Regions from separate parts of the Homo sapiens genome. Here region 1 is linked to region 2. Evidence: fine-mapped expression QTL. A gene starts in region 2. The other region holds a variant in brackets. All regions are shown on one strand. Distances are between the middles of the regions.

Evidence for each region.
Region 1: its variant is fine-mapped to the expression of TRIM69 in whole blood (INTERVAL, PIP above 0.99).

What each region holds. Positions count from the first base shown.
Region 1 is chr15:44,798,063-44,802,594 of GRCh38, forward strand. No RefSeq gene overlaps it. Among named protein-coding and RNA genes, the nearest start is that of TRIM69, 64 kb to the left of the region's middle. The variant T/A (reference allele first, on the strand shown) is at 2,518.
Region 2 is chr15:44,734,810-44,738,809 of GRCh38, forward strand. TRIM69 (tripartite motif containing 69) reads left to right here and starts at 1,719. Exons shown (of 7, transcript NM_182985.5): 1 at 1,719-1,901. The coding sequence starts at 1,896.

The DNA of each region.
Region 1 (4,532 bases), 64 kb after region 2:
CTATCTGTAACCTTAGGCGAGTTTTATTATGCCTTCATTTCCTTATATTAAATGACAATAAAAACAAAATCTACCTCATAGGGTTATTTTAAGGAGGCAACACAGTATAGATGCTTAAAAGTTTCCAGCACACAAGCATGTAATAAATGCTATTACTGCTTTAACTAGTATTATTATTAGTTGACTCTAGATTCAAACTAAATTTTTTAGAGATTTCTACTCCATTTTGGCCTCAAGAAAAACTGAATATAATAAATAATGAAAACTGAATTGGCCTGGGAATACAAAGATATTTTTTCTGGGTTTATTTTCACTTCCACACTGGGAGCTTTATTGATAACTTTAGAGATAAACATTTATGTGGAAGTAAATACACAACACAAGCCCAGAAAGGTACACACTGTAACTTTTTTATAACAGAAAGGAATTGTTGGGGATAATGTATTTCTCTCATGCTTCTGAGTCAAAAACCAAGCAAACTGAAATAGCCCAACACCATCATGATCGATTCCTTGTTTTTATTTCATTTTACTCTTTGCAATATGTTTTCATATTTAGTCATATCTCTTTTGATCCTCAAAGTGAGCCAAATAAGAGGACAGGACAGGTAGTTATTATCAATGATAAAGTGAAGAGTTGAGTGAAGTGACTACTCAGGGCCACCCAGTTGGCAAGTGACTGAGCTGGATTCAAAACCAGCTGTCATCCTTTTTCCTCACACTACACACATTGCCCTAAGTCAGACTTCCACACTGGAACTGTTTAATCTGTTAAAAAAAAAAAAAAGAAAAGAAAAAGAAAAGAAAAAGCTGATTCTGCAGTGACCACTGAGACATCTAAACAGAAGCCTCACCTTACCCCCCCTCAGGAGACAGGGCCATTGGACGGTCAGAGTGCCCCTTTCCTGTTGTTTCTTGTGCATCTGGATTCAGCACACAGCCCTGTCATCCCCCAGCTGTCCACTAAGCACCGCCATCAGCAATAAAGGAGTTACCACTTAATCTCTGGTACTTAAAATGGGAAATTGAAGCATATAATCACAGGATTAGAAACAGCTGAATCTAGGGACGCTGAAAAACCCTTTAGAACAAGTTGCCAAATAGTTTTGCTCTTTGCCAAAATATCTTTTCTCTTTATTTAACCCTTTCTGAGTTATAAGAGAAATGCAATTACAACCATGATATTCTCTACTAAAATGAACAGCTTCTGCTGTCTAAGAAAAAAAGGAAAGATTCAAAAATATACCTGTGACTATAATAGCTCTTGGGAGGAGGAAAAGCCCTCTTGAGTCATCCAGAGTCAGGCCACTTGGAAATTGACTATACATGTAGGTTGGGAACTAGGCTGGTTATTAAGCTACTGTATCTTAGCACCACCCACTCACCTGTTACTCTGTTACATGATTTTGAGGCTGGACTCCACAAATAAAATTTATCCTTTGCCATCTGGTTTCCTGTTAGGCTCTGCCAATAAAGGGTATTAGAGGAAGACTGCAAACCTAGAGGATGGCAAAGGGATTTGCCCCTTGCTCTTTGCTTTCTGTGTCTGTCAACATCCCCTCAGCAATAGTTCTTCACCCTAGCAGCAGCATTTGGGTCTAGGTCTTTTTTTTTTTTTTTCTAATTTCCAGAATCAGCCTCATTGGAGTCCCTGCAGAGACACCAGCACCAGCCAGGTGGCACCTCCTGCTCCGTGGTCTTGTTCTCAACTTTATGGGGCTCTTCATCCAAGCTTCTAGGTTCAACTAATCCACTCTACCCTTTGCTCCCCTGTTCTAACGGTGGAAGATATTTCCTGTAGTTTGCATATCTTTCTGGAGTTATAGTTTTCTAAATACCTGTTTAGCAATTCGATTCCCTATATTAAATTATCCCTGTTAAAATAACTGGAATGGTTTCTGTTTTCCTGATTGGACCTTGATGGATACAGGATCTAACTTTATTTGTATTTCAGATATAGGTTGGAATGGTCACTTTCCCAAAACTTTTATTAATTTATTAATCCAAGAGAACATATGATATGTCTGGCATTCTGCTGAGGACTGGGAAAAGAAATATAAGTGTCTTCTACTAATTTAGTCCAACAAACCATGAGAATACCCAGATAAACCCTATGCAATCTGAAGTGCTAAAAGAGATATATAAAAATTGCTGTGGATTTTTTAAAAAGAAAGGAGTATGCTATAACAAAAGTATCTTAGAAAAAAAATTTTTTTGAAACAAAAAAATGGGCTGGGTGCGGTGACTTACGCCTGTAATCCCAGCACTTTGGGAGGCCAAGGCAGGTGGATCACAAGGTCAGGAGATCGAGACCATCCTGACTAACATGGTAAAACCTCGCCTCTACTAAAAAATACAAAAAATTAGCTGGGCGTGGTGGCGGGCGCCTGTAGTCCCAGCTACTCGGGAGGCTGAGGCGGGAGAATGGCGTGAACCCGGGAGGCGGAGCTTGCAGCGAGCCGAGATTGTGCCACTGCACTGCAGCCTGGGCGACAGAGCGAGATTCCATCTAAAAAAA[T/A]AATAATAATAATAATAAAATAAATAAATAAAAAAGGAACAATTAATTTTGTTAAGGAGGATTCAAAGACAGATAAATAAAAGAACCATACTGAAAAGATTGAAAATGAAGGTTTTAACATAGACACAGGGAAGGGAACAACACACACTGGGGCCTGTGGGGGAGAGGGAAGGGGGAGAGAGAGCATTAGGAAAAATAGCTAATATATGTTGGGTTTAATACGTAGGTGATGGGTTGATAGGTGCAGCAGACCACCATGGTCCACGTTTACCTATGTCACAAAACTGCACATCCTGCACATGTACCCTGGAACTTAAAATTTTAAAAAAGAGAGAGAGAATAAAAGAAAAATAAAAAAAGAAAAGAAAATGAAGGTTTTAAAGGGCCACGTGAATTTACTGTTTTTTCATTCTCCGCAAATTATCACAAGGACAAAAAAACCAAACACCGCATGTTTTCACTCATAGGTGGGAATTGAACAATCAGAACACATGGACACAGGAAGGGGAACATCACACACCGGGGCCCGTTGTGGGATGGGGGGAGTGGGGAGGGATAGATAGCATTAAGAGATACACCTAATGCTAAATGACGAGTTAATGGGTGCAGCACACCAACATGGCACATGTATACATATGTAACAAACCTGCACGTTGTGCACATGTACCCTAAAACCTGAAGTATAATTAAAAAACAAGACAAAACTGTAGTTGTTTTTAGTTTAAAATAGTTTAAAAACAACTATTAGCACTCTCAATTTTCATTAATTATATCCATAACTTAAAAACTATTAAACCAATCTGGCCTGTTGAATCTCTGCGTAATTCTTCCAGCCATTCAGATTACATTAATTTGTAATATACCACCTTCCACAGGAGTTGTATTTCATATTTCATAACCCTCCCCCACAAACACGCACACAAATGGTAAATTTGTTAACTCTCTTTTCAAGGAACACACACTCTTACAACATGGATTACGCAACTATAGAGCAAGCCCATGAAACCTAAAGTACATTCCATGATACGTTACTTCACTGGGGGCATTAGTAGGTAGTCCATGAATGAAGGGTACAATATATAAATAACTTTGAGAAATGCTGGACTGAGCAGACAGATTTACTTGCTGCAGGAATTTTCAAAGCTTTTAATATCCTAATATGTTTGTGAATCCCAAAGACAACGTTACAAATTGCAGCCAGCTCTCCAGATCACATTTGCTTCATCTTTCACTTATCCATCATATCCAATCAGATATTTAAGTTCCCTCTAGTTTCTTCCTCCTCCTTCCTTCTTCCCCACTGTGACCATCCAAGACTTTGTCCTGGTCTTTTTTATCTACCACCCTCCTACCTGACCACCTTGCCTTACTGCTCATCCCCCAGGTCAGTCTTCCACAACAGTCAGACTTCCACTGCAATCAGAAAACTGCAGCCCACAGACCAATGCCAAACAGTTTATTCATAGACCAATGCCTGTTTATTCATAGTTGATAAGCTAAGAATAGTTTTACATGGTTATGTTTTAAACAGTTATATAAGCACCTACATAATATCATTTTGTGTCTTTTGCAAAGCCTAAAGTATGTACTATCTGGCCCTTTTAGAGAAAGTTGCTGACTCCTGCTTGACACCCCTGTCAGATGCATTTATCCTAAATCACCTGTACTTTTTATGGTTTCTTATCACAAGTTATAATGGCTCCTGCTTGTTTAGCCTCAATGACAGAAAACCATGAACAAGGAAAACCCTCTCACCAAGCAGGGAAGTGGGGTCCTTCTTTTAGGTTTTGGCAAAGAGAAAAATTGTTGTCATCTGCTGACTCCAGTGCAAAATCAGGGAACACTAGAAGTATAGAAAGTCCCTTTCTGGGGATACAAAAATGTGCATGCACCAGAGAGTGGTAAACAGAAAGAATGACCAATTTTGTCAAAGCAGAATTACCAAACAGGAAGCAGAAGGTACAGGCAGTGATGCACTGACAAATGTCTCACAACTGGCTTTCCACTGAGATGCA
Region 2 (4,000 bases):
TATACTAAGCATTGTCAAATGTTTTAGCCAACAACAAAAACAATCAAGATGAAACAAAATTACTTTTTTGACTAAGTGATCACCAGCATTTCATAGACATTTATCTGACAAAGGTTTTGATCTAACAAATGCCATGTATTGCCAAGGTGAGCAAGATACAGTACTACCTATCCTGTGGTTTGTTCACAACTTAGTGGAGGGGCAGACATGCAATCAAACAATTAGAATACACTCTGTTAAAGCCACGTGTACAAAGATCTAGGGTGCTATAGAAATGTGTAAAACTAGGCCAGGCGTGGTGTTGCTCACACCTGTAATCCTAGCACTTTGTGAGGCTGAGGTGGGAGGACAGCTTGAGCTCAGAAATTTGAGATCAGCCTAGGCAACATAGTGAGACCCTGTCAGAAAGAAAAGAAAAAAGAAAAGAAAAGAAGGAAAGAAAGAGAAAGAGAAAGAAAGGGAGAAAGAAAGAAAGAGAGCAAGAGAGAAAGAAAGAGGAAAAAGAAAGGAAGAAAGAGAAAGAAACAGAGAGAGAAAGAAAGGGAGAAAGAAAACAGAAAGAGAGAGAAAGAAAGAAAGAGAAAGAAAAAAAGAAAGAGGAAAGAAGGAAGGAAGGAAGGAAGGAAGGAAAGAAGGAAGGAAGGAAGGAAGGAAGGAAGGAAGGAAGGAAGGGAGTAAAGCTGTGTTTCTCAACTGGGGAGTGATTCCAACCCCTGCCCCCAGGAGACATTTGGCAATGACTGGAGACATTTTTGTTATGACTGGGTTTGGTGGGGGGGGGGTGGCTACAGGCATCTAGTGTGTAAACGCCAGGGACACTGCTAAATATCCTAAAATTCACAGGACAGCCCCTCTAACGTAAGACTTAGCAGGCCCAAAATATCAATAGGGCTGAGGTTGGTAACCTCTGGTATAGAGCCAGCAAAATATCTTCTACAAGAGACAGGGAAGTGGGTAAAGCTTGGTTTGGGGATGAGGGGGTGGTTAGGGAAGAGTTTAGTAAAGAGATAATGACGGGGGTGTGGGGGAAGGGAAACTCCCATCCGAAGGGACAACATATACAAAGCTGCAGAAGCGTGACATATTTGGGCGATCCCAAACACTGGGGAAAGAGCTGTGGTCATTAAGTCTGGACAGCTAGGCAGGAGCTAGACGTGCAAGAAATCATATTGAGTTAGAGGAACTACTGTAAGAAAAACTGTTTGGCTCTGTGGTGGCTCTTTATAAGTCACTCAGGAGCACAGTGTTGGTACATCTCTCTGCGAGCTAAAACTGCTGAAGAAAGCTGTATGAAATGAAGCTTTTTTCATCCTGCTTTCTTAGGGCCTGGTGTTTCCCAGGCCTGTGTTACTGTCTCAGAGATAAAATCAGGGCTGCTTCATTGGAATATGAGAGGTGAACTAGCTCTCTATTAAAGCCACTCAGCTGGTGTCTTGATGGTGTGATGGGATCATGAACAGGGGTGAGGTGGTTATTTTTCATGAGTTAGGCTTAATATAGGCTGCTGCTGACGTGTATTTCCTCTTTCATAGAGCATCCTTAGTCCAGAAATGGGGAGCTATGAACCTTAAGATTAGACCACTAACTCGAATCTAAATGAGCTGCCCTTGTCTCCTACAAAAGAAAAGTTGGGCAGGTAGGGTATTCTAATGAGGGTTTCTCTTTCTCTTAAGCAAATGATGATCAAAGTTAACTGACAAACTGTCACGGAATCTGCCAGACCTCACTCTGGCCTTGCTGCTTCTCTCCAGCTCCTGAACTTTTCTTTCTTCCATCATGCTCTGAGCCCATTCCTTGAAAACTAAAAGGTCCCTGACTCCCAGTCTGCAGCCATCCTGGGCCTGCTGAGCTCTGATTCAAGTGCCTGCCTCTGCCCCTTGGTGGGCTGAAGCTTCATGGAGGTGAGTGACCCTTTTTTTTTTTAACTTAGCAGGGCTTCTAGGAATAGTGTGGAAAACAGGATCATAGAAGAGGATATGGATTTAGGAGCACAAAAGGAAATTCATGAAGGGAAGTATTTAACTTGTGACAGCTGGTAGCTACTATACTCTCTCCAAGCCTTGGAATAACTGATAATTTATACTAGAGAAGCTGGTAGGAAAGTAATGAAATCCACCAAAACATTTTGAGAAAAAATAAACTATATACTATATACAATTTACTTTCATTATCAATGTAATCATTTTATTTTAGATTTAAAAATTATTATGTATAACTTGGTTTGCTTACAATACCTTCACATTTGATTATTTTATATTTAAGGCAGAGTTGATACTTAGATAGTAAACATTTTTAATTGAATTCTTCCTTTAAGACCTCTTCAGAGCTAAAATAAAGGAAGTTATGTTCTTCTGAACTTAGTGTTTTCCTGATTGTCAAACAAAAGAAAATGGTTATTTACTACATGAAAGCTTGAAAAACTCACTAAGGGTTTTTCAGGGGCCCTTGAATCCTGAGTTATCATCCATTTCCACTAGTTTCCACTTCTTATAAAGTTTAATTTCATTATATTAATCATTAAGATCAGTTTCTAATTTCCTCTATCATAGGACCTTTAGGTTTGCTGCTACTCATCTCTGTGCTTAGCTATTGAAGCAAACAGGGCTATAAGCATTTTGTTTATAATTTCTAGGGCAAAAATAAACACTATTGCCTAAACCTACTATATTCTTATTACTTTAAGGCCAAGTCAGTGAAAATAGACACTTTTCCATAATAGTAAAAAAATTGTTTGTGTGATAGTGAGTTTCCCATTACTTCAGATGTTCAGGCAGAGGTTGGAAAGGAGTGAATTAAATGGCTTAAAATTTCTTTCAACTCTGGGAAGCTCCAAGAAGTCAGAAAGTTCAGAATCTTGCCTTCTTATGTGCAAATGGCTTGACTCGTGAAGCAGGAGTGTGTCTTGCTCTTAGGTTTAAGCTGGCTGTGCTATATAGTTTGTCTCTGTGGATGAACTGTATTTTTCTGCTCTCAAAGTTAATTCTTCATAAAAACTGCCCATCAAAGTTTAAAAATTACTTTGAAGGAATAAAGGTTGAAAAGCAACAAATGAACTCTCCTTAGATATCTTAACTATGATTTCAAAAATTTACAACACAAAACTTCTCAGGAAAAAAAAATCTCTGGTAAAAATTAAGGATTTCTTATGCAAGCTTCCATGGACTTCATAGCTCTTTGCCTTTTCTCTGCTCTTTGAGAATGTGCACAGTGAACTGAAGGAGGAAGATACATACTTTCTTTCTTTCTTTTTTTTTTTTTTTTTTTTTTAGGACAGAGTCTCACTCTCTTGCTCAGGCTGGAGTGCAGTGGCACCATCTCAGCTCACTGCAACCTCCGCTTCCAGGGTTCAAGTGATTCTCATGCCTCAGCATCCCAAATAGCTGGGACTGCAGGGACGCACCACCACGCCTGGCTAATTTTTGTATTATTATTTTTTTTTTTAGTAGAGATGAGGTCTCACCATGTTACCCAGGCTTGTCTCCAACTCCTGACCTCAGGTGATCCTCCTGCCTCAGCCTCCCAAAGTGAGGCTAAGATTACAGGCCTGGGCCATCGTGACCTGCTGATGTGCTTTCTTATAAAGTGATTCCTGCCAGCCAGGGCTTTATAAGGATGAATATCAATTCCTGACTCGAGTTTCTCTCTCTCTGCCTTAAGGTTAGACTTCTTCCCCTAAAAGGGGCTGGCAGTAGATGTGTTTCCTAAAAGATTTCCAGGTCCAGAAATTTTAGACTCTCATTTGGTTTCCAATTCTATAGCTCCCTCTAGAGCAGTAGGAAGTTATTGCAGATATTTTGCTTCACAAATTTGATCCATTTAATAAATTCAATTCCACAAAACATATTGATGGGCTCTCTGCTGACTCAGTGGTTAATAGGCTTTGGGGTCAAATAAAGAGTTCAAATCTGAGACCCACTACTTAATAATTGTGACTCTGGGAAGATACTTGAAGCAATCTGAGCTTCAGTTTCCTTAAAATATGTAGTAATAATACGTATTT